Linked DNA regions of Homo sapiens. The protein of the gene in region 1 interacts with the protein of each later gene in a pairwise test. Each region holds a gene or a part of one and is shown in the gene's direction. Other genes may lie near its edges. The genes, in order: NOTCH2NLC, GNE, TAPBPL, DRD5, AGXT, VASN and SPG7.

Region 1 (4,271 bases):
AAGCATAGAAGCACCACTAAAAAGGTGAAGAAGCCTGGAAATAACCCTATACTGAGGAATACGCCAAACCATTGAATCCTGGAAAAAAGAAAACAAAAGGCCCACATAACTATCTTCAGATTCTTGAAGGGCTACGTGTAAGAGAAGCAGAAGGCTTGTTCTTTTTTGTTCTAGAGGGTAGAGATAACCTGGAAATTGTAGAGAGACAAAGTTTGTTCTTTTCAAAATTAAGACATAATTTATGTATCATAAAATTTACCCTTTTAAAGTGTTTAATTTAGTAGACTTTAGTATTTCCAGAGTTATGAGACCACCACCATTATCTAATTTCAAAACATTTTTATCACCCTGAAAGAAATTCTCTACTGCTTAGTAGTCACTGTCTATTTCCCTTTCTTTACAGCTCCTAGCAACACTAATCTACTTTTTATCTCTACGGATTTGCATATTCTGGACATTTCATATAAATGGAATTATATAATATGTGGCCTTTTGTGTGTGGCTTCTTTCACTTAGCATGTTTTCAAGGTTCATCCATGTTGTAGCATGTATCAGAATGTCATTCCTTTTCATGGCCACATATTTCATTTATGGATATACCACATTTTATTTATCTGTTCATCAGCTTATAGGCATTTGGGTTGTTTCTACTTTTTAGCTATTATGAATAATGCTGCTATGAACATTTTTATTATGTGGGCATATGTTTTCAGTTATCTCGGGTATATACCTAGGAAGGGAGGCAGAATTTGAAGAATTAAGAAAGAGCTTTCTCACAGTGGAATCCACCACATTGAAGACTGTTCTTTTGTTGAAGTAGTCAGCCAGTAATTTCACTTAACAAATGCATAGTGTTTACTATGTGCTGGATAGTGTTCTAAGTGCTTTACCCTTATTTAAAAATCCTATGAAGTAGGCACTGTTATTACATCTCTTTTACAACAGGGAAGTTTAGTACCTTGCCCAAGATTACACATTGAGTAAATGGTGGAGTTGGGATTGAAATCCAGGTGGTCTGGTTCCAGAGTCTGTACTCTTAAGAGCAGAACAATAATAACTCCAAGCATTTATTAAATTCTCAAGATTTATCCGGCACCATGCTACATGCTTGTATTCAAGCAGAGGCTGGTGATCATCTTTTAGAAATATTTTAGAAATGATTACTTAATTGGATAGAAATTAAATTTCTTGAATCTGAAGGTTCTGTTTTTCCAAGGATGGCTGGAAATGGGGGAAAAGCCAGCAACAAGATGATGTCTGGCCTGAGGCTTTTAAGATGATCAGAATTTGTATCAAAAAGGAAACTGTGAACACGAATGATAAGTATTATAGGAATTCAGTTAACAAGTCTTGTCAGAATGTGGTAATAAATTATATACAACTTAAAGAGATGAAGTTACTTTAAATTGTGTGTGGAAGCCTTAGAAAAATTGAATAATTAAAGTTTCTTGGGAAGATGATCTCCTTTTACAAATGTTTAGTTTCAAATAGTGGCAGCACATATTAGGATAGAGAGATGACTTCTAGAAAACTGAACATATGGGACTGGAACAGTGTATTTTGGAGTCAGTTACAGGAAGGAAGTTGTTTAAAACCAAGTGAACAACAACAGTAACAAATGCATTTGAGAGAAAGAGCAGTGCAGTCCAGACTTAAACATTAGGGTGGCCATAATAGATGGGGAAGAAGGAGAAATCAGCAATCCAGACTAAGACTTCACTGGGTTTTGAGTTAGACAGAGGGAGTCATAGAAGCCAAGGTAAAATGATTAAAACGGTACATGGAGTGGTTAGCAATTCTCCCTATAGGAGAGAGAATTTCCTTATGAAGTTTCAGATGAGACCACTGAACTTGACTAGAGGAAAGTCATTGTTTTTAGAAAACAGTTTCTAAGCAATAATTAGAATTAAAGTTTTGTTGCAGAGGGATAAGTAAGAAGTAGATGGAAAAGAAAGAGAAATATCTGAAATTAGGCTACAGTCATAGAAGGTTAGCTGTGAAACAATAATTTGGAAAGGGAAATGGGACCTCATGAAAGTGTGGGTTAAAAGAGACTTGTATATCTTCTAAGGTAAAAGTAAAGAACTAAGCTGATGTCCAGCCCTCTAAAACATTTTAAATAGAAATCAAACTTTATTAATACAGTAGGTCTAGTTTCACGTAAAGCAAATATGTGGTTCTGTACACGGGCTTTAGGAGAGTAAGTCTGTTGTACCTCATATGTAAGTATTATCCCATTTAGAGGAAAACCCTAAGTCTTTCTTTACAGTGGCTTAAAGGCCCCAATTGATCCACATCCCAGTTACAGCTCTCATCTATTTTCTGCTGCTCCAGATATTCTTGCTGTTTCTCAAACACGCTAGGGCTGCTCTCTGTGTTATGGCCTTTGCATTTGCTGTTCCCTTTCTCATGAATGTGTTTTCCTAAGATACCTGCATGATTACTCTCACCTTATTTAGGTCTCAACTCAAGTATTGTCAGTGAAGGTCTTCTCTGATTTTCCTATTCTAAACTGAGATACTTCTCTTTGCTCACCCCACACCCTCATCCCCAGCTCCATTCCTTCCTGTTTAATTTTTTTTCACAGCACTTAACTCCATCTATTGTGCATCTTTTACTTAGTAATTTTGTTTTCGTCTTCCGCTATTAGAATGTAAACTCCAAGAGTGTAAGAATTTTTCTAGCACTGGAAAAATGCCTGGCACATAATAGGCATTTACTAATTGTTGTGTGAATGAACGATTATAAGTTTAATATTCTTTGTGGAAACTAATAAGGTTGATTTCCTATCAGAAACCGATCATTATTAATAAGCATATTGGATGGTATTTATAGAATTAGCCTTCATATGTTCTCTACTCAGAAGTTGGCAAACTTTTTCTGTAAAGTGCCAGAGAGTAATTATTTTTGCAGGCTTTGTGGTCTCATTACAGCTACTTGACTCTGTTGTTGTAGTGGAAAATCAGCCATAGACAATCTATAAATGAATGAGCATGGCTGTGTTCCGGTAAGACTATTTATGGACACTGAAATTTGAATTGTATATAATTTTGAAATGTCAGAAAATATCCTTCTTTTGTTCTTTTTTTCTAATCATTTAAAAATGTAAAAAACTATTCACAGGCCAAACAAAAACAGGCAGTGGTCCAAATTAGACTTGCAAACTGTACTTTGTCAATCTCTGGTTTTACTGATTTCTTAAATATATCTTAGGTTAAAACTTATTTTTCCATACTTGATAGGGAGCAACAATGTGAATTAAACTGTAGAAACAAATAATTCAGAAATACATCTGTTTAGCTTTAGAAACTTCCATTTTGCTTCATTTTTGTTTTCCTGGGAACCTTATATTTCCATTATATGTTTATGATGCTACCATTTAAATGACTTTGCATTCTCTTAGCATATGCCACATGATAGTGTTAGGGTGGTGTAATAGTTCAGGAGCAAAGCTGAGCAAAGCCCACCCACGTTTAAAAATTTGCCATTATTTAGAAGGTGCATAATTCCCATATGGGAGAATGAAGAGTCATCTAATAATGCCCAGAGGGCTGCACTGTGAGTGAGAATTGTGTTGCAGTTTTTAACATTCATAACACATTTCTTGAATAAGCTGCAAATGCTTTTAATAATATATCTCAGAGTTAATTTTAGCTATGCTACATTGGCACTTTTTGCTCCTCCACTTCAAAAAACCAACACAAGAAACTATTCTCAAATCAAGCTGTGATTTGGATGGGGCATTGTATTTTCCTCAATAAGCACAAAGAAGAGAGAAAAGATGTTTTCACTTGGCAAAACTTTTTTTTTTGAGATGGAATCTCACTCTGTTGCCCAGGCTGGAGTGTAGTGGCACAATCTCGTCGGCTCACTGCAACCTCCGCCTCCCGGGTTCAAGCAATTCTCATGCCTCAGCCTCCCGAGTAGCTGGGATTACAAGCGTGCACCACCACCCTGGCTAATTTTTGTATTTTTAGTAGAGCCAGGGTTTCACCATGTTGGCCGGGCTATTCTCAAACTCCTGACCTCAGATGGTCCTCACACCTCAGCCTCCCAAAGTGCTGGAATTACAGGTGTGAGCCACTGTGCCCAGCCCACTTGCAAAACTTTTTAACATTTATAAGGTTTTTTACATACTTGATTTTGTTCAGTTCTTAGAATAATCTCATGATGTAGGTGACCTTATTAACTATTTACAATGTGAGAAAATGGATAGTCAGTGAAGATAAGTAACTTGTCCAAGGTCACAGCACCAGAACTCCAAACCAGAC
Region 2 (4,271 bases), on another chromosome or scaffold:
CATATTTTTAGTAAAGACAGGGTTTTTCCATGTTGGCCAGGCTGGTCTCGAACTCCTGACCTCAGGTGATCCGCCCACCTCAGCCTCCCAAAGTGCTGGGATTACAAGCGTGAGCCACCGTGCCTGGCCTGATTTTCTGAAATTTTTTACTACATTGGCAAAATGGTCATTTTTTTTTTTTTTTTGAGATGGAGTCTTACTCTGTTGCCTAGCCTGTAGTGCAGTGGCTCAGTCTCGGCTCACTGCAACCTCCACTTCCCGGGTTCAAGCGATTCTCCTGCCTCAGCCTCCTGAGTAGCTGGGGTTACAGGCGCACACCACCACACCTGGCTAATTTTTTTTTGTATTTTTAGTAGAGACGGGGTTTCACTATGTTGGTCAGGCTGGTCTCAAACTCCTGACCTCATAATCCGCCCACCTCGGCCTCCCAAAGTGCTGAGATTACAGGCATGAGCCACCGCGCCTGGCTCATTTTTATTTTTAATGCTTTTCTTATAGAATTGTTGGAATACTCAGATTATGAATGTTGGAAGCAGTAAGCCATAAGTACTTATTAATATAAGGGATTATGATGATTATTAAAAAGCAAAAGTCATAGTTGTAGCCTTAGAGTATATCTTTGTAAATAAGCCCTATGTTCCAAAATTTTTATTGTTCAGTGCTCTAGCTTCCTAGAAATTATCTTTTGCTAATCAGAGGTAAAAAAATCCAAGTTTACAAACAGAATGTCAGTTGGTTAATTTATAGTAAGAGTACTACCTAGGGGACAAATTAGGACTAATAATCTATTTAGGACCTTTCATTTCTAAGAGGCAGATCTATTGAATTATAAAATTAATGAACAGAAAATTGATTTGGTTGGGTCAGGTATGGTGGCTCACCCTGTAATCCCAGCACTTTGGGAGGCTGAAGTGGGAGTATTGCTTGAGCCTAGGAGTTACAAGGCCAGCCTGGGCAACATAGCAAGACGCTGTCTCTACAAAAAATAAGAAAATTAGCTGGGCGTGGTGCTGTGTGCATGTAGTCCTAGTTACCTGGGAGGCTGGGATGGGAGGGTCACTTGAGCCTGAGTAGTTGAGGCTACAGTGATCTGTGATTACACTGCTGCACTCTAGCCTGGGTGACAGAGTAAGACCCTGTCTCAAACAAAACAAAACAAAAAAAAACAAAAAACAATAACAAAAAAAAAACACAGAAAGAAAAAGAAAATTGAATAAGCAAAGAGATTTTGTATATTTTTAATCTAGATTACATTACATCAGGAAAGGAATTGGGCTTTCCTGCTATATAACGTACTCCATTCTACATATTTCTGTTGTTCAGTCTGGAGTGCAGTGGTGCAGTCTTGTCCTCCTGGGCTCAAGTGATCCTACCACCTCAGCCTCCTGAGTAGCTGGGACTACAGGCATGTACCACCATGCCCAGCTAATTTTTAAAATTTTTTTGTAGAGATGGGGTCTCACTATTTTGCCCAGGCTAGTCATGAATTCCTAGGCTCAAGCAATCCTCCTGCCTCGGCCTCCCAAACTGCTGGGTTTATAGGCATGAGCCACCGCACCTGGCCCATTCTAAATATTTCTTATGCTTGGACAGATTTGTAATTATCAAGGGATCGTCTAGATAATGCTGGTGGAACAACCTTCTGTCTCTTCAGTCTCTCCTTTTAGTATGCTTCCGATGAAACACTCTTGGATTCTGTTCTAATTATACCATTAGCTCTCTAGGTATTCTGGAAAACTTGTATCACTGAAAAACTTGTAATGAATAGAAAATAATAATGTGCCAGATGTGGTGGCACATGCCTGTAATCTCTGTACTTTGAGAGGCCAAAGTGGGCAGATCACTTGAGCCTAGGGGTTTGAGAACAGCCTGGGCAACGTGGTGAAACTCTGTCTTTACAAAAAATACAAAAATCAGCCGGGTGTGATGGTGTGTGCCTGTAGTCCCAGCTACTCCGGAGGCTGAAGTGGGAGGATTGCTTGAGTCTGGGAGTTCAAGACTGAAGTGAGCCATGATTGTGCCACTGCACTCCAGCCTCGGTGACAGAATAAGACCCTGTCTCAAAAAAACAAAACACTAGTTTTGGCCAGGTGCCAGTGGCTCATGCCTGTGACCCTAGCACTTTGGGAGGCCCAGGCAGGTGGATCACTTGAGGTCAGGAGTTGGAGACCAGCCTGGCCAACATGGTGAAACCCCATTTCTAGTAAAAATACAAAAATTAGCCAGGTGTGCTGGCACATGCCTGTACTCCCAGCTACTCAGGAGGCTGAGGCAGGAGAATTGCTTGAACCCAGGGAGGTTGCTGTGAGCCGAGATTGCACCACTGCACTCCACACTCCAGCCTGGGTGAAGAAGCGAGACTCCATCTCAAAAAAAAAAAAAAAAAAAAAAACAAGCATAAAACCCAGGCCAGATGCGGTGGCTCACACCTGTAATCCCAGCACTTTGGGAGGCCACGGCGGGCAGATCATGAGGTCAAGAGATTGAGACCATCCTGGCCAACATGGTGAAACCCCATCTCTACTAAAAATACAAAAATTAGCTGAGCATGGTGGCGCACACCTGTAGTCCCAGGTACTTGGGAGGCTGAGGCAGAAGAATTGCATGAAACCCAGGAGGCGGAGGCTGCAGTGAGCCGAGATCGCGCCACTGCACTCCAATCTGGCAACAGAGCGAGACTCCGTCTCAAAACAAAAAACAGCAAATAACCATTAGAAAGCAGAATGTAGCAAAATTGAATTGTACTTGTAGGGCTTAAAGTCCTATTTGGGACAATTTAAGCAGTTCTTTATGGAAAGAAGGACAACAGAACAGCTAAAATTGCTTTTTTTTTTTTTGGTCTTTAAACCAGTGAAAAAGAAAACTCAAGACAATGAGGCAGAGCCATCCACCACTGGGCAGTAATACATTTTATATAAAACCTGTTCCTGCTTCTTGATATGCAACTTCTTTTTTTTTTTCTTTTTTTTGAGACAGAGTCTTGCTCTGTTGCCAAGGCTGGAGTTCTGTCACCTAGGCTGGAGTGCATTAGCGCAGTCTCGACTCACTGCAACCTCTGCCTCCCAGGTTTAAGCAATACTCCTGCCTCAGCCTCCTGAGTAGCTGGGACTACAGGCGCACACCACCACACCTGGCTAATTTTTGTATTTTTAGTAGAGATGGGGCTTCATCATGTTCGCCAAGTTCGTCTCGAACTCCTGACCTCAGGTGATCCGCCCTCCTCAGCCCTCCAAACTGCTGGGATTATAGGCATGAGCTACCGCACCTGGCCTTAATATGGAACTTCTCATGCTATCACTCTGCTTACAGGAAGATAGGGTTGGGTAGGCCATATATAACATTGCAGCTTTGTAACCAGAGTGTTAATATATAACAATCTTAATTTTAAAATTAGCAATGTTAAAAAGGCATGTTAAATTCCTAATAATGAAAGGCATATCACAGTAAATATAGGACTTTACAACAGAAAACAAAATGCCTTTATGGAAAGGATTTATGAAAGGGCTGAGGCTGCTGAATTATGGATAGATACAAAGACTGGTAATAATATCAGAAGTGCCAGGTGGAGAAGCAGGTGCAAACTTTGTATGAAATGTATTCTTGCCAGGGATGAGTTGCTCTGGCTCATTGTCTTGCGTTTTACTTTTCCCTGGTCTAAAAAGACTTCTAGTTTTTGCTACTTTGCCATCCTTCTTTCATAAAGAAACTGTTGCTGGGCACAGTGGCTCGCGCCTGTAATCCCAGCACTTTGGGAGGCCGAGGCGGGCAGATCACAAGGTCAGGAGATAGAGACCATCCTGGCCAACATGGTGAAACCCCATCTCTACTAAAAAATACAAAGATTAGCTAGGCGTAGTGGCATAGGCCTGTAGTCCCAGCTACTCAGGAGGCTGAGGCAGGAGAATTGCTTGAACCCACAAGGTGGAGGTTGTAGTGAGCCAAGATCGTGCCACTGCACTCCAACCTGGGCGACAGAGTGAGACTCTGTCTTAAAAAAAAAAAAAAGTAAATGAAACAAAAAGCTGGTTCTTTGAAAAGATAAATAAAACTGTTAGACCATTGGCAAGATTAACCAAGAAAAGAAGGGAGAAAATCCAAATAACCTCACTAAGAAATGAAACAGGAGATATTACAACTGACACTACTGAAATACAAAAGATCATTCAAGGCTACTATGAACACCTTGACACACATAAACTAGAAAACCTAGAAGAGATGGACAAATTCCTGGAAAAATACAACCCTACTAGCTTAAATCAGGAAGAATTACA
Region 3 (4,271 bases), on another chromosome or scaffold:
AAAAATAGCTAGGCATGGTGGTGCGCGCCTGTAGTCCCAGCTACTCAGGAGGCTGAGGCAGAAGAATCGCTTGAACCCCGGAGGTGGAGGTTGCGGTGAGCCAAGATCATGCCACTGCACTCCAGCTTGGGCGACAGAGCAAGACACCATCTTAAAAAAAAAAAAAAAACTGGCTTAGAATGACAGTAAGAAGCCAGCCAATCTTTAGTTGGCTTTACTATCTGTTTTCTGGAAAATGTAACCCTGCCCCCTTACGGCCTGCATCCAGGTGGGCCCCTCACACACCCCCGCCTTGGTACACCACCAAGGGACACTGTAGCCTCCACAATCTACTCTCATCTTGGCAGGAAGAAAAGGCTTCAGGCTCCTCCGCTGTCCCCAGTTAGATCCATGTGTAATCTTATTCCTCATTCTTTCTCCAGCTTCCCCTAAAGTACGACTGAGCTTGGCAAACGAAGCTCTGCTGCCCACCCTCATCTGCGACATTGCTGGCTATTACCCTCTGGATGTGGTGGTGACGTGGACCCGAGAGGAGCTGGGTGGATCCCCAGCCCAAGTCTCTGGTGCCTCCTTCTCCAGCCTCAGGCAAAGCGTGGCAGGCACCTACAGCATCTCCTCCTCTCTCACCGCAGAACCTGGCTCTGCAGGTGCCACTTACACCTGCCAGGTCACACACATCTCTCTGGAGGAGCCCCTTGGGGCCAGCACCCAGGTTGTCCCACCAGGTACTGGGAGTGTCCTCCTTTTCCCCACCTCCACACTAGGGCTCATGGCTCTCCTGCCCCAGCTCATCTATGGCCTTGTTCTGCTGCCCATCCACTTTGTTCGCAGCCCTGGCTTCATGCTCCTGCCTCTGCTCCTGACTATTTTCCCAAGGCGGCAGCTGCCACAGCTTCTACCACACATCCCCTGAGACTTCATTATACTCCAGCCTCCAGGGTGTCAGGCAATGTGCTTAAGGCTGGAGATCACAGATGAATAATTCCTGATCATGCCCTCCAGGAGCTTAGTCCAGTAATAGAGACAAGACTAAGTAGACAGAGAAGATGGCATTTGAGCCAAGTTAACTAGCTTAGAGGGAAGGGAACACTCAAGATAGAAACAATAGCATATATGAAAGCCAAATCATAAAACAGCCTAAAGAGAATTTGGAGAATTGCAAGTAATTCAGCACAGCTAGAGCTTAGGGTATATGGGAAAAAGGGAAAGTGGCTCTGAAGCTTCGGAGGTAATTCTATTTATTGAGCATTTACATGAATCAAGCAGTGTAGAAAGCACTTAAATGTATGATTTCATGGATCATGACTCCCATTTTACAGGTGAGTAAACTGGCACTTGCAGATGTCAATGAATTTGCCCAAGGTCACCTATCAATCAATGGTAAAGAGAGAATGTGAAAAACAGGCAACCGGATTCCCCTTACGGGCTTAATTAAACCCTGTAGATCTCACTGGGCCTTCAAGCTGGAACTTCCTGAGAGCCATAGCATGCTGTTGAAAGGTTTTATTTATTTATTTATTTATTTATTTATTTATTTATTTATTTTATTTTATTTTACTTTTTTTCGATACAGAATCTTGCTCTGTTCCCCAGGCTGGAGTGCAGTGGTATGATCTCAGCTCACTGCAACCTCCATATCCTGGGTTCAAGCCATCCTCTTGCCTCAGCCTCCCAAGTAGCTGGGATTACAGGCGCGCACCACCACGCCTGGCTAATTTTGCGTTTTTAGTAGAGATGGGGTTTCGCCATGATGGCCAGGCTGGTCTCAAACTCCTGACCTCAGGTGATCTGTCCGCCTCGGCTTCCCAAAGTGCTGGGATTACAGATATGAGCCACCGCACCCTGCCTGTCGAGAGGTTTTAAGCAGGAAAGGGACAGGAAAGAACCCGCAACTTGAAGTGGAAACATCCAGGAGCACTGGGCATTATTTGGTTGCTCATTAGACTGTGAACTTCCCCAAAACTGAGGTTTCACTTCAGCTCACATCATTCCCCAACTATTTACAAAATCCCAGTTAACTGGTGGTTTTTTGTTTTGCTTTGTTTTATTTTGTTTTGTTTTGAGATAGGGTCTCACTCTGTCGCCCAGGCTGGAGTGCAGTGGCACGATCTCAGCTCACTGCAAACTCTGCCTCCCAGGCTCAAGTGATTCTCCCACCTCAGCCTCCCAAGTACCTGGGACCACAGGCGCACACCAACATGCCCAGTTAATTTTTTGTATTTTTTGTACAGACAGGGTTTCACCATGTTGCCCAGGCTGGTCTCGAACTCCTGACCTCAGGTGATCCACCTACCTCAGCCTCCCAAAGTTCTGGGATTACAGGCATGAGCCACTGTGTCCAGGCAAGTTAAGTGCTAACAAATAAACCCACCTAAATCTCACTTGCAAAGCAATTTTTAAAACCTTGTCCTTAGGTGGGAAGAGGTAGAGAATTCTGTGTGGAGTAACTCACAAGTATCCAGCAACCTTGAATAAGAACAAATGCTGCTGAGTGCCTTGTTCCAGGCTCCTCAACCAGGGACTCACACACACAATCCTTAGCTCCTCCTCCCTGGGGTGGACACTGCAGGTGAGGGCTCAGCTCATGATTCCTGCGCACGATGATCCCCGCCCACGTTGCTCTCACCTACAGAGCGGAGAACAGCCTTGGGAGTCATCTTTGCCAGCAGTCTCTTCCTTCTTGCACTGATGTTCCTGGGGCTTCAGAGACGGCAAGGTAAGAGCCTGGGTGCCCTTGGCTCTGGCCCTGGCCCACCTCACCCACTCTAACCACCCCCCCGCCCAGACCAGGGTGGAAGCCCAGATGCCCCAAGCTCCAGCCACCCACCCATCACAGCCTCCTGCTTTTGAGTTTGCCCTAAATGAAAATGAAACCAGTCGTGTTCCCTCGTTTTCTCCTAGCTACCTCACTAAAGTCTGTCACTCTCCTGCCTCAGAGTAGAAAGAAAGAGTAGTCACGTGCTCCCAGAAGGACTCTAAGTCAAGTCACAGAGCTAAAAATACATGAAGGTGGCACCAGCTCATGGGGCACTGGGCCTGGCTCTGCAGAGGCCTCTGCCTTCCTTCACTGTGCACCCTGGGCTCATGCACCAAGGCAGAGAACAGGAAGAAGTGAGGGGACAAGAAGAAGGCAGAATGTCCAGATGGAGGATAAGACCAAAGAGCCAGGTTGGTGGTGTGACGGTAGGAAAACAAAGCTGGAGGAAATGGAGAAGGAACAAGTGAGGGACAATGAGGCATGGGTTGGGGCTGGGCTACCCCTCCCAAACTCAGCTCTGTCAAAATAAAAGGCCCTTGTGTCTGCTGCGACCAAGCTTTTCCACTTTCCTGTCTTTCTCCACACTGGTCCCAACTGAGCCCTGTCACCAAGCCTAGCGGCTCCAACTTGCAAAGTGTTTAAGTATGAAACAAAGGCCCTCAGAGGCACCCCCGTGGCTCCATCTCAGTTGCACCTCAGCTGCAATTAGGGTTCTGCTCCCTCGGGTGACTGCTGGGAGGTTCAGGATACCTGCAAATGCCTCACTCCCTCAGCTGCAAGGAGAGACTTCTCCTTTTTATTCGTTTCTAAAATGTGCCTAATCAATACGGTGGAACTCAGCATACCAAAACTGTACGTGAGGATGATGGGGAAAAGGGGGTAAGGGGGTGTTCACTGACAGCCTTATCTGGGCACATCCCCTGGGACAGGACAAGCAGGCCAAGGACCTAGGAAGGAGCACAGGAGGCAGATGGAAGAGGCCTGAGGGAACCTGTGCTTGTTTGCCAGTGTGAGATGCCCACGCAACTTCCTGTCTTCACTTCCTCTTACCAGCACCTACAGGACTTGGGCTGCTTCAGGCTGAACGCTGGGAGACCACTTCCTGTGCTGACACACAGAGCTCCCATCTCCATGAAGACCGCACAGCGCGTGTAAGCCAGCCCAGCTGACCTAAAGCGACATGAGACTACTAGAAAGAAACGACACCCTTCCCCAAGCCCCCACAGCTACTCCAACCCAAACAACAACCAAGCCAGTTTAATGGTAGGAATTTGTATTTTTTGCCTTTGTTCAGAATACATGACATTGGTAAATATGCCACATGCCTTTGGTGGAAGTACAACTGTTGTTATTACTCTATACAAGTATGAGATCAGGGTTAGGAAAAAAAGACAAAGAGGTGATGACAGACACACAGTGGAAACCCCACATCGTCTCATGGCAAACCGAAGAACGGGATGTGGGAAGCTCAGCTTCATTTGACTGCAAAGTCCCAGGGTTTTGTTGCACATTT
Region 4 (4,713 bases), on another chromosome or scaffold:
ATGGAGGAGGCACAATTCTGGACAGGGATGTCCATGGCCAGAGGAGTGGTCCAGCTCCCAGAAGATGAGGAGAGACCAGAGGTGAGGATGGCCCTTCAGTTTCAGGTTTAGGCACCTGGACAGATGGTCTTGCCCTCTCCAGCGGCAAAAAGCACTGAGGGGGAAGGAGGTTGGGGGAAGGGACTGTGTAGGCTGAGCAGCTTAAGTCTGAGAAGGTGGGCCACTTGCAGATGTTGGTCCAGGGTACAGGTGCGTTTGGTGGAGGGGGAGACTAGGAAGGGAGGAGAAAGTCCAGTCTGTTTCTAGACCTCACCATGCTGCAGGTGTCTGGGCCAGCAGGTCGCAGCCGGAGCTATGCAGCTGGCTGCTGTCACATCCCTTTCTCTCCCAGCTGCCTTCAGCTGAGCTTAACGCCAGTAGAGGCCGAAACACTTCACAAATGCAACTTGTCAGCTGGGAGGTGCACTCAGAGCTCAGGAACACTGTTTTCCCTCTTTATTGTTTTCCATCATTCTTTTTTTTCAGTTTGGGTTTTGGGCCCCGTCAGTTCCTTTTCTGTTAAACACTGAGCTATTTATCCATCCCTCTCAAGGTTGAAAAAGAGAAAGGCTGTAAAAGTGCCCTGCAAAGAAGAGGCCTCCAACTCTATGGGGGTGGGGGGCTCTCTTCCTCCTCTTGTCTTCTGAGTTCATTCCGAATTATTCCCCAAAGGAAAAATCGTTCAAGGACTGGGGGCGGTGGTGGGGAAAAGGACAATCTCCCAAGAGGTCAGCTGAAGCCCCAGCCTCAGGGTGTTGAGAGAGGGGCTGGGGGAAGCGGGAGCCTGTTCCTAGGAGACACTGTCTACTGGACACCTCATCCTAGACGGCTTCCATGAGTTCTGACACTGTCCCAGGAGTAGGAATCATTATCCCACGCTGTGGAGAAGGAAACCAAGGCCGGGTAAAGTTATGTAGGGCCCTTAAAGTCGCAGAGCCAGGAATAAAGTCCGGATTGGGACTCGGGTCTGTGGGTAATCCAAGGCTGCCCCGCTTACCCTTCAAATGCTCTTTCCCCCTCCGGAAGCCCTCGCGTCCTCATCCTTACCCCACCTCTTGTTCCCCAAGCGTGGCCAGGGCTAAGGCTCCAGGGATGCGCCAAGCACCCTTCGGTTTTCCCGGGGAGAATTTTCCCCGGCCCGGGGACTAGGGTCTGGCGCTGGGGCGCCCCTCGGACCTGCGGGATCGCCCCTACACTCTGGCGCGCTGAGGGCGGTGAGCGAGGGCGCCAAGGCACAGGTGGGGCGGGAGTCGAGCGCGGAGGCTCGGGGGGCGGGACGCGGGGCCTGGGAGCGGCCAGGGACCGCGGCAGCGCCTCAGTGCCAGCCTGGCGCCCGCGACTGCCTGCCCCAGCCCCTCAGTGGCGGCTTGCTCTCTTCTCTCGCTCCGAACCAGACACAGCCGCTGCCGCTGCCGTCCGGCGCGCTACAGACTCCCGAGAACAGCCCTGGCTGTCAGCGAGCACCAGCCGCTTCCTGTCCCCATCGCGGAGACTGGAGGGGCGCACCACGGCCATGGAGCCAGAGGCGCTTCAGGAGGCAAGAGAAGTCCCCGCGCGCTCCGCAGCCCGGCGCAGCTCATGGTGAGCGCCCTCTGGGGCTCGAGGGTCCCTTGGCTGAGGGGGCGCATCCTCGGGGTGCCCGATGGGGCTGCCTGGGGGTCGCAGGGCTGAAGTTGGGACCGCGCACAGACCGCCCCTGCAGTCCAGCCCGAAATGCTGCCGCCAGGCAGCAACGGCACCGCGTACCCGGGGCAGTTCGCTCTATACCAGCAGCTGGCGCAGGGGAACGCCGTGGGGGGCTCGGCGGGGGCACCGCCACTGGGGCCCTCACAGGTGGTCACCGCCTGCCTGCTGACCCTACTCATCATCTGGACCCTGCTGGGCAACGTGCTGGTGTGCGCAGCCATCGTGCGGAGCCGCCACCTGCGCGCCAACATGACCAACGTCTTCATCGTGTCTCTGGCCGTGTCAGACCTTTTCGTGGCGCTGCTGGTCATGCCCTGGAAGGCAGTCGCCGAGGTGGCCGGTTACTGGCCCTTTGGAGCGTTCTGCGACGTCTGGGTGGCCTTCGACATCATGTGCTCCACTGCCTCCATCCTGAACCTGTGCGTCATCAGCGTGGACCGCTACTGGGCCATCTCCAGGCCCTTCCGCTACAAGCGCAAGATGACTCAGCGCATGGCCTTGGTCATGGTCGGCCTGGCATGGACCTTGTCCATCCTCATCTCCTTCATTCCGGTCCAGCTCAACTGGCACAGGGACCAGGCGGCCTCTTGGGGCGGGCTGGACCTGCCAAACAACCTGGCCAACTGGACGCCCTGGGAGGAGGACTTTTGGGAGCCCGACGTGAATGCAGAGAACTGTGACTCCAGCCTGAATCGAACCTACGCCATCTCTTCCTCGCTCATCAGCTTCTACATCCCCGTTGCCATCATGATCGTGACCTACACGCGCATCTACCGCATCGCCCAGGTGCAGATCCGCAGGATTTCCTCCCTGGAGAGGGCCGCAGAGCACGCGCAGAGCTGCCGGAGCAGCGCAGCCTGCGCGCCCGACACCAGCCTGCGCGCTTCCATCAAGAAGGAGACCAAGGTTCTCAAGACCCTGTCGGTGATCATGGGGGTCTTCGTGTGTTGCTGGCTGCCCTTCTTCATCCTTAACTGCATGGTCCCTTTCTGCAGTGGACACCCCGAAGGCCCTCCGGCCGGCTTCCCCTGCGTCAGTGAGACCACCTTCGACGTCTTCGTCTGGTTCGGCTGGGCTAACTCCTCACTCAACCCCGTCATCTATGCCTTCAACGCCGACTTTCAGAAGGTGTTTGCCCAGCTGCTGGGGTGCAGCCACTTCTGCTCCCGCACGCCGGTGGAGACGGTGAACATCAGCAATGAGCTCATCTCCTACAACCAAGACATCGTCTTCCACAAGGAAATCGCAGCTGCCTACATCCACATGATGCCCAACGCCGTTACCCCCGGCAACCGGGAGGTGGACAACGACGAGGAGGAGGGTCCTTTCGATCGCATGTTCCAGATCTATCAGACGTCCCCAGATGGTGACCCTGTTGCTGAGTCTGTCTGGGAGCTGGACTGCGAGGGGGAGATTTCTTTAGACAAAATAACACCTTTCACCCCGAATGGATTCCATTAAACTGCATTAAGAAACCCCCTCATGGATCTGCATAACCGCACAGACATTGACAAGCACGCACACACACGCAAATACATGCCTTTCCAGTGCTGCTCCCTTTATCATGTGTTTCTGTGTAGTAGCTCGTGTGCTTAGAAACCTCACCCCATTGATTGGTAGTTCGAAGAATTGGCAGAAGCAGTTGCAATAAACTCAGTCAAATGTACCCAGCCTACCAGAGATGGACCAACGATCCTATGAGAGAAGAGAGTATGGTGCTGGGTCCTTAAAAAAAAAAATGATACTTGGTCCTTAAAAAATATGCTCTCCCCTCCCTTTTTAAACAAATGGCTTGTTCAGTCACTTGTTTGTGTTTGAATTGATTTTTAAACAGCAGGTTGTGTGTGTGTGCAGTGATGTGGTGGGAGCACAGCTTTCCTGGGTCTGGATTCCCGTGGCTTTGTGCTTATGTCATTTCTTCTCTCTGTGCTGGTGGGGGCCTCTTTACCATAGCTTAAGAAGTATCCCTGATTTATTCTGGTGTCTAATAAACACAGATTATTTGTATTATGGGGTGACTATCTTTGCTTTGCTACATTGGGTTTCAGGATTGCTTCTGAAGAAACGATGAGTGCATCCTTAAAATGCAAAGAAGATATTTGCTGGGTCTGGAAGTACATGCTTAATCTCTTTACAGTTTGGCCTTAAAGATACACCAGGGCAAAGGACCTTGAGGAGCTTCTGTTTTCTCAGGTTTCTTTTTATTACTTATACCCATGTTGGGTCTGTGCTGAAACCTGGCTTCAATGGCATGGCATTAGATCTTCTCAAGACCAGATGTTTTTTTTCTCATATGGAATCTTTTTTGAAGTAACATAAGACAACTCTCCTTATTCCTAGACAGATGCGATCAGTTCATTGAAAAGATCATGTAGAATAATATCTTGAATCTTTCTCCATCTGACAACTGTAGCATGTTTTAGAATGACATGGCTTTTGAGAAATCGTGTTTTCTGAAGAGCTTTGAAATGTGTGAATCAAGATGCTTTAAAAAAGAAACTCTATTTTTAAATAGGCATTTTCCTTAGTGGACAATAGCAAATAGGGAAATGCTTTTTAAGTAAAATGTAGAAGCCAGAGATGAAATGTGAATGAACTTGAAATTGGAAAATCTGTAGGTCGAGGTGCTCAATAGAAAAGCCCGGCTGACTCCAATCATTTTGTTTTTCCTCTCTGCAGTGTGCACAGCCAAGGGGAGTGTTTTATTCCAGACCCACACCAGTTGAGAGCATATTATTACCATCAGATCTAAATGTGAGCACTATTAATGGAAGCAAATGAAATGTGAATATGCAATTTCTTGCAAGTCCCTGCTTTGAAGCCGTTTTATCAAGGACAGTTCAATCAATTTTGATCTCTTTAAGGCTAATTTTATTGTCAGTCTTCTGTGCAGCCATATCTTGATCACTGCAAAATGTGCAGTTCCTGGCACATAGTGCTTAATAAATATTTGTTGAATGAATGACTATTTCTGGAACAGTGAGATTG
Region 5 (4,271 bases), on another chromosome or scaffold:
GAGGTGCCGTTCCCCAGAACAGAGAGGACTTCGGGGAGAAGTCAGGAATTCGGTGTTGGACGTGGGAGGTCTGAGATGCCAGCTGGACCACACGGGAGGGTGAAGGAAGCGGCTGGGTGTGAGTCAGGAGCCTGGGGAGAGGCCGGGGCTGGCCCCTCCATCTGGAGTTGTAGAGACGGACACATTTAAAGTTTCAAGCCTGGCCAGTGTCCCCTGGGGCCCGAAAGCAGTCACCTTTGGGTGATGTGAGAAATGAAGGCTGACCCTGTAGGAGGGGCTGGGGGAGAGAAAGGGGCACACAGAGTGGAGGGAGCTGGCCTTGGTGCCCCCATGGCAGGGTCACACAGCTGGGCCCAAGGGCCAGCGGGACTGGACAGCTGAGGGACCCACGACCCACCCGGTCCCACTCTGGCCCCTGAGCACAAATGCAGCTGGGGCGGGCCCTCCTGGGGGCCCCACCCCGTCTCACTCCCGTGAAACAGGACAGCCAGCGAGACTGCCCTGGCCTTCAGCCCAAACTGAGAGGCTGGTGCTCAGCCTGCTTCTTTCTCCCCAGAAAGAAGATGTACTCCCGCAAGACGAAGCCCTTCTCCTTCTACCTGGACATCAAGTGGCTGGCCAACTTCTGGGGCTGTGACGACCAGCCCAGGATGTGAGGCCTGGCAGGGATGGGAAGGTGGAGGGCGCTGGGCATGGCTGAGAGGTGGGGCGCTGGCCTCTCACTGCACTCAGGGATTCTCCAAGCCCCCCACCTTCATGCCTCAAGAACCCCAACTAGAGCCCCAGAATCCGCCTGCATCAGGCAGTCAAATGCCCCACCCTGGGTTCCCCCATTCCTCGACTGGCCCGAGGCTCTGGGCAGGGTCATGGCCCCCACTGCCGCTTCCACAAACACTGTCCCCCCAGAGGTCCCAGCACACCCTCGGGCACTTTGGACCTGGCCCTGCCACATCTCCCCACTCCTGGGCCTCAGCTTACCCCTTCTGAAAAGACGACCTTGGCCATAAACCCAAGGCCCCTTATGTTACACACAGGAACAAGGCGCCAGGAATGGTGCCCTAGCCCAGTGGGCACAGAGGGCCAGTGCCGGCTTCGCAGGCACGCTGGGACTGAGGGGCTCCGCAGGGAGGTGGTGGCACGTGTCTCTGCTCCTGCAGCCACCCACTGCCTCCTGGCTGGGCCCTACACAAGCCATGCTCTCCCTGGCAGACGAAGCTGCCTTCCCGGTCCAAAGTTCTGAACCCGGACAGGACTCCTCTGCGGAGGATACCGGCCTGTGGTCAGAGAGCCTGTGCTGTTGGGGCTGGGGCAGACAGAGCTAATGCCCCATCTGCCCCCAACCCTGCCCATGGTGCTGGACCAAGCCCCCTCGTGTCTTCCAGGTACCATCACACAATCCCCGTCATCAGCCTGTACAGCCTGAGAGAGAGCCTGGCCCTCATTGCGGAACAGGTGCATGGGCTGCACTCCACAGGAGGAGACAGGGCCACTGGCTGGATTGTCGAGGGCGCGGCCTGCAGAGAAGGAACCATCCCTGGTGCACAGAGAAAAGGGAGCCTGCCAGAGAGAGGCCCTCAGTGGGGGTGGGGGAGAGAGGACAGGGCCCCGGGTACACTGGCTGCGGGCAGGGCCAGGGGGATACAGCCCCAGGGACAGATGCAGCAATGGGGCAGGTGTGGATGCTCCCAACCCTTCCATTGCTGTGTGAAGCAGTAAGTGAGGCCCAGTGAGTGGGTGGGCTGGGAGAAGGGGAGGCCGAAGGGGCCAGAGATGTGCCCACAGATAGGTGGGCGTGGATGTAAAGTGAGGGTTGGCAGTTCCTGCAGGCTTGTCCAGCTCCTATGGCAGGGCAAGAGCTGAGCATGAGCACTTGGGTGTGACCAGGGGTTGATTTGGCCACTGCAACATCCACACTCTCAGGACACTGCAACATCCACACTCTCAGGACACAGGCGGCTGAGAGTGGCCTCAGGCCCAGCAGCTCTGCAGGCCACGAGACAGGAAGTCCCACCTACTTTCATCTGGGTCCTGTGTCCCACAGGGCCCATTGCCAGCCACCAGTCCAGAGTCCAGGAAGGATCCCCGGGCTGCAGCCAGCTTCCCATGAGGTTGCAAGGCCGTGCCTGCCACGTTTGTCCTCCTGGGTCCACTCATAAAGCCACTGCCTAGGGCTGGGTTAGTGCCAGGGTGCCCCTGTAAGCTAAATGCCACCCGCACCCGCGGGGGAAGGCGAGGGGTCAGGCGCTCACACAGGGAAAGGCTCTAGGGTCGTAAAGGTGGGTGGGGGGTGTGAGCTGGGCAGAGAAGGAAGAGAACAGGACCAGACAGCAGGGCACAGTCAAGGGCAGAGGCACAGGGACCTGGCAGAGTGCAGATTGCAGGGGCACATGCGCAGAGAAGACGGGCCAGGGCCAGAGTAGAGAGCAGCTGCTGCTCCGGGGACCCACCTGGGGTGGCCATGAGAGCTGGTGGCTGGAGGCCGGGAGGACCCGTGACCAGAGGTAATGGCACTGAGGGGCCCAGGGCTGGAGAGACCACCCCTCACCTGTCCAGAGCTGAGGCAGGAGCAGTGCTGCGGAGGATGCCAGGTCGGGGGAGCTGGCCCTGAGAGGAGAGGGGGCCTGGGAGCCAGCACCCTGAGCCCTGGCCCTGATCCACTCCAGCCCTGTGTAGCCCAACAGCCCTTCCCCTCCTTGCCCAGTCCCCTCCCCCTGCAAGGCACTCTCCACTCTTCTCCCCCAGGGGCCACAGGCAGACCTCCCCTCTGTCTCTCTGAACCCTCCTCTGTCTCTCCCAGACCCAGATGTTTCCTTCTGCCCTGGGGTAGTCCCAGGCCCTGCCCCAGGCAAAGTCAAACTGGGGGCTCCAGGGGCTCCCCTGCACCAAGGCCTGCAGAGTCAGGTTCTTCCTCCCGCACCACAGAGGGCGGGGCTTCCTGCCCACCCCACCCATGTCACTGCCCACCAGCGCCATCTCCCACACAGGGCCTGGAGAACAGCTGGCGCCAGCACCGCGAGGCCGCGGCGTATCTGCATGGGCGCCTGCAGGCACTGGGGCTGCAGCTCTTCGTGAAGGACCCGGTAAGGAGGCCCCTGGCATTGGGCAGCCCTGCACCCATGGGGAAGGATGAGGGGCTCTTGCCCAGCCCCCTCAAGAGGGACACTGGCTCCTGAGAAGGAGGGGGCGGCTGCCCGGTGGTGTGGCCTCGGTGCCAGGGATTAGTCTCGGCAGGAGCCACGAAGTCACAGCTCCCGGCCTCTGATGCGGGATCTCAGGACGGCCTGTGATCTCCCAGTGGGAAGGTGCCCATCCACCGCCTCCTAAGGGGTGGGGTCCCTGCTCTCTCCCGGCCCTTTCTCCCCCGGCTCCTCTGGAACCTGAAGCTGGGGCAGATGGTGCAGGCCAAGAGCTGTCACAAAGGCCCGTACAGGGCCTCTCACCCACGCACTGAGCCAGGCCCCTCCTGCAGGCGCTCCGGCTTCCCACAGTCACCACTGTGGCTGTACCCGCTGGCTATGACTGGAGAGACATCGTCAGCTACGTCATAGACCACTTCGACATTGAGATCATGGGTGGCCTTGGGCCCTCCACGGGGAAGGTGAGAGGGAGCGCCTCGAGGGCCTTTTGCAGAAACCAAACCCGCCACCCCTCCTTGAGCAGGACTGTGCACCAGGTGCAGGGGAGGCCGGGGTCATCCGAAAGCCCAGATTGCAGGAGCGTCCAGAAGGGCCCACTCTCCAAGGGGTATCCAGTAAAGCGTATCCTGTCGCCCCTGCTCCCACCCCAGCCCACTGAGGTCACCAGGTGCAGCCTTTATGATTCCACTCGGAACATCCTTCCTTCCCTCTGACCAGACCCTGGAACCAGGCCGGAAGCCCCACGCCTGGGCCTGGCTGTGTCTCTGAGTGGCAGTGGGGAGGGACCTTCACTGCACCACCCTGTCCTCCCGTGTGGCTGCGGGTGCAGAGGGAGGAGAGCCTGCCCTGGCCTGGGTGCTCAAGGGCCCCCTCTGTGACCTGCACAGGGCTGTCAACTCCCCTCATGGACGCTGGGTGGGTGGTCCTCACTCAGGTGAGCCCATCCTGGCTCTGGCCAGCTGTCGGTCAGGGTCAGGCAGGTCCCAGGCGGGAGGCTGACGTCAGCCCGCCCTGTGCCCCCCAGGTGCTGCGGATCGGCCTGCTGGGCTGCAATGCCACCCGCGAGAATGTGGACCGCGTGACGGAGGCCCTGAGGGCGGCCCTGCAGCACTGCCCCAAGAAGAAGCTGTGACC
Region 6 (4,271 bases), on another chromosome or scaffold:
TTTGATGTGGGGGTAGAATTGGGGCTCAGGCAAAAGAGCTCACCGCACATTTTACGGGGCTGGGAAGCAGGCTGGCTGCCGCCTGCTGGATGGTCAGCCCAGGACCCCAGCCCACAGTCCTGACCTAGACCCCTGTCCTGCTAACAGGAACGCACATTCCACAGCTCACTACCTGTCAGCCGGAAAGCCACCCTGTGGCCAGATGGACCCACAGCATCCCCTCTCCCTTCACAACCTTGCTGATTAAAGACCCAACAGATTACGGAGCCCAGAGCTATGGCTGGTCCCCCTCCCCAGTGCAGGGTGAAGAGCACCCCCCAGCACGTGCCCCTAAGAGCTGGCCTGCACACCTGGCCTTGCAGGGCTGAGGACTCCACATGCATCCCCCACTGCAGCCCTGAAGTGTCCCAGATACTCAGATGAAGAAACCGAGGTGTGAGAGCAAAGTCACTGTCTGCGGCCTCACAGCTTGGACACCTCTGAGCACAGGGCCGCCTGCCTGGAGTGAGCGCTCTTAACTGTGACCTTAAACGAGGCCCAAGGGGAGCTGCGGCCACAGTGGTGGCCAGGCTGGCCAGGCTGGCCACGTGGAGGATCCCCTCCCACTCTGGAACCTGGCTGCATCCTTCCTGACCCTGGTCTGGCCCTGCTGGGAGGGCTAATTCAGGCAGAGGTGGCCTCACCCCCCATATGGACATGGGGTGGGTGGGGGTCACTCACAGCCCACATCTGGAGGCCAGGCCGCACCCGCCGTCCTCTGAGTCAGTGAGGGTGGAGCGGGTCCCATGGGGGAAGAGAAGGCTAGGGGTGTGGCCCCAGGGCCTTAGGTCATCAGACACGAGCCCCCCTGGGGTGGGCTGGCCGGGCCAGGGACGCGTGCCTGGGGTTTGGGGTGCTAACTTCTTCCAGTGCTCAGTGCCAGGCCCTCCTGGGCTGTTCACTCAGCAGACCTGAGCTAAGTGGGCCTGGAGACACCTATGGCAAAGGCAGGCTGGGTCTCACCTTAGGGAGGTGAGGGGGCACACGACAGCAAGGGGGACACCGCTAGGTTGGGGAGGCTTAGCCTGCTGGCCTCTGAAGGGTGCTTGTTGTCGCTAACTGGCTAGGGGCTCAGGGTCGGTAGCTCCTAGGGGAGACGACTCTGGCAGTGCGATACTACACGTGGGCAGGGCCTGCGTGGGCCCAACCCCGGGGACAAGGGCTTCTTCCTTCACCTCGAGCTACCCGCAGACCCCAGTGGTCACCTCACCAGTGACTTGTCTAATCTGTCCTGGGACCACCTGCTCCTCCTCACATTCCAGGAACCCACGTACCTGGGGGAGAGGGAGCCCTATGGACGGGTCCCCCCAGCCTGGGGCGGAGTGCAGGCTGGGTCGGGGTCGTGTTCCCTGGACTACCTGCACAGCCTGTGTGGGGGAAGGGGAAGCCCGGACTCCAGCACAAAGGGCTCTTGTGTGAGCTGCAGGCGCCACTGGGCAGGATGCTTCCTGGGGATGGGCTGGCACCCCGTATGAGGCTCAGGGACTTCTAGGGGTGCCAAAGTGGGGAGGGCTCTTCCTGGGGACGGCCCCAGCGGTCTCCCCAGGAGTCTAGGTGATGGGGGCCAGCCACAGACCTGCCTGACTTGGGCAGTGCAGCTAAGATCTGGAGCCTGGAGCGGCTGGTGGGAGCCCCCGCCCCCAGGGCCATCTGGAGGGCACGCACCCTTCACAGGTGGCTGCTGCACACCTGGGCTCTAGCTCGGACTTGCTGGCACCGCAATGGCAGCGAGTCCCTGCACCTCCATGAGCCCTGCTTTCTTCTGTCTGCCCTGACGTGGCTGCTGGGGGGCTACCTGAGGTGACGGTAAACACTTAGTGTTCCTTCGTCCTTCCCACTTCGCTGGCACATGGGAAGGACTTGCACCATCACTGCCAAGGGGATGGCTGCTGCTCATCTTTCTTGGTGCCCAGCTCAGGGCAGACCCCAAGAAACAGTAGACGAAGCCGGGCACGGTGGCTCATGCCTGTAATCCCAGCACTTTTGGAGGCTGAGGCGGGCAGATCACCTGAGGTCAGGAGTTCCAGACCAACCTGACCAACATGGTGAAACCCTGTCTCTACTAAAAAAAAAAAAAAAAAAAATACAAAAATTAGCCATGCATGGTGGCTGGCACCTGTAGTCCCAGCTACATGGGAGGCTGAGGCAGGAGAATTGCTTGAACCTGGGAGGCAGAGGTTGCAGTGAGCCGAGATCTCGCCACTGCACTCCAGCTTGGGTGACAGAGCAAGACTCCGTCTCAAAAAAAAAAAAAAAAAAGTAGATGAATGACTCTGCAGAGTTTTCCCAGGCCTGGCACTGCCCCTGGGGCTGCCATGTAGCCAGTGTCCCCACCTGAGCCCTGTGGCCCCCCAGCTCCAGCTCTGTCACCAGCCTCAGCTCCCCGCCTCCCTCCCTCACAGGGGACACCTGCCAATGCCTGTGGCCTCTGCCCCTCCTCCAGGAACCTTCCCGCCGGCCACTTCCTGGCGGCCCGCAGCCCCCAGCCTAAGCAGGTCTGACTGCCCAAGTGGAAAAACATGGATCCCATAGTTTCCATGTGAAGTCTTCCCGCTGCATTCCCTCCTCCAAGGAGGGCGGGACACGGAGCGTGGCAGCAGGAGCCGGCGGCCAAGGCAGCCAGCTTCTCTGCTTACACACCCACCCAGCTGCCTGCCTGCCCCCTCTTCCAGACCCTGTAGGGAGGAGCTGCCGCTCCAAGTCCCACCATTCTCTCCTTCCTGGTCCATCTCTGAGGCAGGGGATGGGGGAACCTACCTAGGCAGAGGCAGGAGGGCCTGGGGTTCAGGAGGAAGCAGTGCATGGTCACTGCACGTTCAGTGGATGTCATGCCCCATGATGACCTCTGTGTGCATTGACAAGGTCACACAGTGAGGGAGTGACGGGGCTGGGACAGAACCTGGGTCGGGGCACTGGCGACCTGACTCATAACCATTGGGTTCTCTTGCATTTGGGGGCAGAAGCAGTGAATTCCCTCTGGCTCTTCCTGGCGTGTCTGCCTTCTAGGCCCCTGACTCACAGTCTTCTGTCTCTGCCTCCTCTCTGCTCCCAGGGACAGAAGATGTGCTCCAGGGTCCCTCTGCTGCTGCCGCTGCTCCTGCTACTGGCCCTGGGGCCTGGGGTGCAGGGCTGCCCATCCGGCTGCCAGTGCAGCCAGCCACAGACAGTCTTCTGCACTGCCCGCCAGGGGACCACGGTGCCCCGAGACGTGCCACCCGACACGGTGGGGCTGTACGTCTTTGAGAACGGCATCACCATGCTCGACGCAGGCAGCTTTGCCGGCCTGCCGGGCCTGCAGCTCCTGGACCTGTCACAGAACCAGATCGCCAGCCTGCCCAGCGGGGTCTTCCAGCCACTCGCCAACCTCAGCAACCTGGACCTGACAGCCAACAGGCTGCATGAAATCACCAATGAGACCTTCCGTGGCCTGCGGCGCCTCGAGCGCCTCTACCTGGGCAAGAACCGCATCCGCCACATCCAGCCTGGTGCCTTCGACACGCTCGACCGCCTCCTGGAGCTCAAGCTGCAGGACAACGAGCTGCGGGCACTGCCCCCGCTGCGCCTGCCCCGCCTGCTGCTGCTGGACCTCAGCCACAACAGCCTCCTGGCCCTGGAGCCCGGCATCCTGGACACTGCCAACGTGGAGGCGCTGCGGCTGGCTGGTCTGGGGCTGCAGCAGCTGGACGAGGGGCTCTTCAGCCGCTTGCGCAACCTCCACGACCTGGATGTGTCCGACAACCAGCTGGAGCGAGTGCCACCTGTGATCCGAGGCCTCCGGGGCCTGACGCGCCTGCGGCTGGCCGGCAACACCCGCATTGCCCAGCTGCGGCCCGAGGACCTGGCCGGCCTGGCTGCCCTGCAGGAGCTGGATGTGAGCAACCTAAGCCTGCAGGCCCTGCCTGGCGACCTCTCGGGCCTCTTCCCCCGCCTGCGGCTGCTGGCAGCTGCCCGCAACCCCTTCAACTGCGTGTGCCCCCTGAGCTGGTTTGGCCCCTGGGTGCGCGAGAGCCACGTCACACTGGCCAGCCCTGAGGAGACGCGCTGCCACTTCCCGCCCAAGAACGCTGGCCGGCTGCTCCTGGAGCTTGACTACGCCGACTTTGGCTGCCCAGCCACCACCACCACAGCCACAGTGCCCACCACGAGGCCCGTGGTGCGGGAGCCCACAGCCTTGTCTTCTAGCTTGGCTCCTACCTGGCTTAGCCCCACAGAGCCGGCCACTGAGGCCCCCA
Region 7 (4,271 bases), on another chromosome or scaffold:
AGGCACCCGCCGTCTTGCCTGGCTAATTTTTGTATTTTAGTAGGGATGGGGTTTCACCGTGTTGGCCAGACTGCCCACTTCAGCCTCCCAAAGTGCTAGGATTACAGGTGTGAGCCACCGGGCCCGGCCATCCAACAGTGTTCTGTTCGTGTTTAAAATGCTGCTTGTGGCCAGGCATGGTGGCTCACGCCTGTAACCCCAGCACTTTGGGAGGCCGAGGCAGGTGGATCACTTGAAGCCAGGAGTTCGAGACCAGCCTAGCCAACTTTGCGAAACCCCGTCTCTACTAAAAATACAAAACTCAGGCATGATGGCACACACTTGTAATCCCAGCTACTTGGGGACCCCCCCCCCCCACAGACAAACATGCCGCACCTGTGGCAGTAACTAGGCTTGAGCCCGACTGTCTTTCCTCCCCTGGTTCTGGCAGGAGAGGCGGGAGATTTTTGAGCAGCACCTGAAGAGCCTGAAGCTGACCCAGTCCAGCACCTTTTACTCCCAGCGTCTGGCAGAGCTGACACCAGGATTCAGTGGTACGTTCTCAACCCGCAGCCTGGGCAGCGTCACGTCCTGAGGGCAGGTGGTGTCACCTGCGCAAACAGCATCGAGGCCTCCTCTGTGGGGTGGGCGCTGCTCCTTCTCTGGGGGCCTCTGCTCAGTACAAGCCTGGGAGGGAGCTGATGTGTATGTGGGGCAGCAGGAGGTCCAGACGGCACCCGCACTCCGTCCTCCGCCCCGGGGTGGAAAAGCAGACGGTGGTTCCCGGTCTGTGTTGTTTCCAGAGATAGTGGAGTTATGTTGCTTCCACACAGTGACCAGTCATGCCGGCGTTTCCCGTCAGACCCAGAGTCAGACCACGCAGTCCCGGCAAAGCCGCCTCCCTCTGACCCTCACGGTCTCTGTCAAGTTGTAGAAATAGAAATCATACCTCAAGATGCTTTTCCTGCTGTGTGGTTCACATTTTAAAAGTTAATGTCAACAAACCTCCCTTTTATTATGAGATGAATTTGCCCTTTGATTATTCGTTAGGGTCTTTCACTAGAATTTTGTGGTTACTAGAGAGCCTTTAATTTCTTTGCCATCAATGCTCATGAGCTGTTAGGTGGAATCAGCCACAAGATGGGGTGTGGAACTAACTGCCCTTGGGAGGAGAGACGGGCGTCAGGGCGGATGGAGCCTGGCGGTTCTGTGTCTCGTCTGTGGAATGGCCTCAGTGGAACACGGTGCAAGTGCCTGCCGCTCTCCCCACCCCTGCTCCTGGCGCCGGCGCCTGCCGCTCTCCCCAGCTCTGCTCCTGGCGCCAGCTCCCCGTGCCTCTCTCCCAGACGCTCTCACCAGCACTCTTGGTTCTTGGTCTCTTTTCCCTCTTTGTTCTTCCTTTTATTTATTTACTTATTTATTTTGAGACAGAGTCCTACTCTGTCGCCCAGACTGGAGTGCAGTGGCGTGATCTTGGCTCCCCGCAGCCTCCGCCTCCTGGGTTCAACCGATTTTCCTGCCTCAGCCTCCTGAGTAGCTGGGATTACAGGCGCTCACCACCACGCCCGGCTAATTTTTGTATTTTTAGTAGCAATAGGGTTTCACCCTGTTGGCCAGGCTGGTCTCAAACTCCTGACCTCAGGTGATCTGCCCACCTCAGCCTCCCAAAGTGCTGGGATTACAGGGGTGAGCCACCATGCCCGGCCATCTTTGTTCTCCCTTGAGGGCCCCTTCCTCCTCTTAAGCCCTGATAGCAGAAACCCACCCACCCACACCGTGGCTGTTTGTGTTGACAGGGGCTGACATCGCCAACATCTGCAATGAGGCTGCGCTGCACGCGGCGCGGGAGGGACACACTTCCGTGCACACTCTCAACTTCGAGTACGCCGTGGAGCGCGTCCTCGCAGGTACAGGGGGCGCGCCCTGGGTGAAGGCCCTCCTTAGCAGGGCTTGAACCCCAGAAATACCCAGGCAGGTATTGAGAGGTGAGGTGGATGGAACCATCACACAGGAAGGAACACACGTTGCGTTTCAGTTCTGCGTAACTCATGTCTTTATGATACCTTGTACTTTTCCTTAGTTTAAAATATCACAGATTTACCTAAGAGTAGACGCTCGTCCAACAGAAATAAAAAATGCCTTGCCAAAGAAAGTGAAAAAATAAAAATAAAAAATGCCCCCCAAAAATAAAAATAATAAAAACTAAAAATGTCTTGCCAGCCTGGGTGTGGTGGGCTCAGCCTAGCCCCAGCCTCATGGGGGCTGAGCTCCAGCCGCTGACTGTGGGCCGGAGGGCTGCTGCCGCCCGTGGCTGTGGAGGGACAGCCGTGCTTTCAGCGCAGCAGGGGCTCTGCGGAGAGGTGTGGATCTGCAGCACCACCTCTGGTGAAACTCATGGTCCCGACCGTCAGTAGGAACGGGAGATGAGTTTTGGTGACGGGTGACCGGTGGGCTGACCGCCTCTGACTGCCGTTCCGTGGCTGCTCAGTGTGGGGTCTGCGACGTCTGTGAGGAGAGAGGACCAAACTGGGAATCGGAGCTGCTGGAGGTTTCCATAGCTATGATGGCAACACCCAGACGTGATCAGTCATCTCATGGAATGGAGTTCAGACCCGCACTGTCAGTGTGAGACAGGTTGAACGTTTGAAAAGGGAAGTGGTTCTTGCCCCAGGTGTTTGAGGAGCACGAGCCTCCTTTGCGAGCTATCCCTGCGAGAACCGAGTTCCTCACCCTCAATTCGAGTGAATTCCTAGCACGAACACGCCTCTTGCAGGTCCCCAGGGCTTCAGCTTGGGAAAGCAGTGGGTTCCTGCAGAGGAGTGGGGCAGCTGCTGTGCCAGACACTGCAAAACACACCTGGCTTCTCTCCGACAGCCCTGCGGGTCGAGAGGACTGGCGCTGCCTGTGTCTTACTGAAATTTATTTTCGTGTAACCATTTACTTTTATGTGGAAATCGAAAAGCTTTTGATAATAGTAGCAAAGCAGGAAGGACTGAGTGGGAACCACAAGCCAGTTGAAAGAAAATACATGACGTACTTGAGTGCTCAGGACCACGAGCTGATTCAAGTTGTACAGAATGGACACTTACAGATGTGTGGAAAATCTGAGACAGGAAATGAAGCCTCACCAGTAAGCTGAACAGGGGAGATTTAATGCAAACATTTGTCCCTGGCTGGGCACTGTGGCTCATGCCTGTAATCCCAGCACTTTGGGGGCTGAGGCAGGAGGGTTGCTTGAGGCCAGGAGTTTGAGACCAGCCTGGGCAATACAGCAAGACCCCATCTCTTAAAAGAAAAGAATAAAGAGTATTAGCCAGGCATGGTGGTGGAGCACACCTCTGGTCTCAGCTACTCAGGAGGCTGCAGCAGGAGGATTGCTTGAACCTGGGAGGTTGAAGCAACAGTGAGCCGTGATCGCACCACTGCCCTCCAGCCTGGGCAACAGAGTGAGACCCTGTCACTGACAGAAAAAAAGCCTTGTCCCTGAGGCAAAAAGCTTCTGAAGGGGTGAGTAGAAGCCATAAGGATCCAGAAAGTGATGGGGATGGGAGCTGCGCCTCCAGGTCTGAGGGGAGAGGGAAAGTAAGCAGGAGGCCCGTAACTCAGAGGAGGCCTCTGCCCATCCTGCCAGGGAGAAAGTCAAAAGCTGCTGTTCTGTGACCCTTGCCCCGACCCTGTGGCACCCCCCCAACCATGGGGCAGGAGGAGACACTCCTCAGAGGGTTGCACTTGTTCCTAAAAGCAGCAGGAGCTATTTCGATGATTGCAACATTTATAAAAGAAGAAATCACGACCTCCTTCAACAGCCCTTTGACCTGAAGAGTGTCGTTTTGAGTTGGGGTGTCCAGAGCCGCAGCTGCAGCTCCAAGAGGCAGATGTGCAGAGAGAGGCTTGCTTTGACCACACGGGGCAGGAGCAGGGCCCAGCCAGGGAGAGGCCGGGGTCTCAGCTCACCCCCCCGTCATTCTTTTTTGTTTGTTTTTTGAGACGGAGTCTTGCTCTGTCGCCCAGCCTGGAGTGCAGTGGCATGATCTTGCCCTACTGTAACCTCCGTCTCTCAGGTTCAAGTGATTCTCTTGCCTCAGCCTCCCAAGTAGCTGGGACTGCAGGCGCCCGCCATCACACCTAGCTAATTTTTCTATTTTTAGTAGGGACGGGGTTTCACCATATTGGTCGGGCTGGTCTCGAACTCCTGTCCTCAGGTCATCCGCCCGCCTTGGCCTCCCACAGCGCTGGGATTACAGGCGTGAGCCACCGCGCCCAACTCATACCCCGGCATTCTTTCAGGGACT

Evidence for each region.
Region 2: the proteins of NOTCH2NLC (region 1) and GNE interact in binary tests that used the Homo sapiens proteins (3 or more experiments, as listed by UniProt).
Region 3: the proteins of NOTCH2NLC (region 1) and TAPBPL interact in binary tests that used the Homo sapiens proteins (3 or more experiments, as listed by UniProt).
Region 4: the proteins of NOTCH2NLC (region 1) and DRD5 interact in binary tests that used the Homo sapiens proteins (3 or more experiments, as listed by UniProt).
Region 5: the proteins of NOTCH2NLC (region 1) and AGXT interact in binary tests that used the Homo sapiens proteins (3 or more experiments, as listed by UniProt).
Region 6: the proteins of NOTCH2NLC (region 1) and VASN interact in binary tests that used the Homo sapiens proteins (3 or more experiments, as listed by UniProt).
Region 7: the proteins of NOTCH2NLC (region 1) and SPG7 interact in binary tests that used the Homo sapiens proteins (3 or more experiments, as listed by UniProt).

Annotation. Positions count from the first base shown.
Region 1 is NC_000001.11:149,449,407-149,453,677, forward strand, and holds part of NOTCH2NLC (notch homolog 2 N-terminal-like protein C), read left to right. Parts: intron 1-4,271. UniProt on the Homo sapiens protein: Human-specific protein that promotes neural progenitor proliferation and evolutionary expansion of the brain neocortex by regulating the Notch signaling pathway.
Region 2 is NC_000009.12:36,240,854-36,245,124, reverse strand, and holds part of GNE (bifunctional UDP-N-acetylglucosamine 2-epimerase/N-acetylmannosamine kinase), read left to right. Parts: intron 1-4,271. UniProt on the Homo sapiens protein: Bifunctional enzyme that possesses both UDP-N-acetylglucosamine 2-epimerase and N-acetylmannosamine kinase activities, and serves as the initiator of the biosynthetic pathway leading to the production of N-acetylneuraminic acid (NeuAc), a critical precursor in the synthesis of sialic acids.
Region 3 is NC_000012.12:6,458,223-6,462,493, forward strand, and holds the end of TAPBPL (tapasin-related protein isoform 1 precursor), read left to right. Parts: intron 1-422; coding exon 423-725; intron 726-2,632; coding exon 2,633-2,716; intron 2,717-2,901; exon of another isoform or gene 2,902-3,168; intron 3,169-3,811; coding exon 3,812-3,927; 3' UTR 3,928-4,094; downstream 4,095-4,271. UniProt on the Homo sapiens protein: Component of the antigen processing and presentation pathway, which binds to MHC class I coupled with beta2-microglobulin/B2M. Association between TAPBPR and MHC class I occurs in the absence of a functional peptide-loading complex (PLC).
Region 4 is NC_000004.12:9,780,278-9,784,990, forward strand, and holds DRD5 (D(1B) dopamine receptor), read left to right. Parts: upstream 1-1,356; 5' UTR 1,357-1,752; coding exon 1,753-3,186; 3' UTR 3,187-3,732; downstream 3,733-4,713. UniProt on the Homo sapiens protein: Dopamine receptor whose activity is mediated by G proteins which activate adenylyl cyclase.
Region 5 is NC_000002.12:240,874,553-240,878,823, forward strand, and holds part of AGXT (alanine--glyoxylate aminotransferase), read left to right. Parts: intron 1-556; coding exon 557-652; intron 653-1,382; coding exon 1,383-1,452; intron 1,453-2,984; coding exon 2,985-3,080; intron 3,081-3,469; coding exon 3,470-3,598; intron 3,599-4,161; coding exon 4,162-4,269; 3' UTR 4,270-4,271. UniProt on the Homo sapiens protein: Peroxisomal aminotransferase that catalyzes the transamination of glyoxylate to glycine and contributes to the glyoxylate detoxification.
Region 6 is NC_000016.10:4,377,778-4,382,048, forward strand, and holds part of VASN (vasorin precursor), read left to right. Parts: intron 1-3,091; 5' UTR 3,092-3,100; coding exon 3,101-4,271. UniProt on the Homo sapiens protein: May act as an inhibitor of TGF-beta signaling.
Region 7 is NC_000016.10:89,546,228-89,550,498, forward strand, and holds part of SPG7 (mitochondrial inner membrane m-AAA protease component paraplegin isoform 1 precursor), read left to right. Parts: intron 1-430; coding exon 431-533; intron 534-1,775; coding exon 1,776-1,886; intron 1,887-2,467; coding exon of another isoform or gene 2,468-2,490; exon of another isoform or gene 2,491-2,555; intron 2,556-4,266; coding exon 4,267-4,271. UniProt on the Homo sapiens protein: Catalytic component of the m-AAA protease, a protease that plays a key role in proteostasis of inner mitochondrial membrane proteins, and which is essential for axonal and neuron development.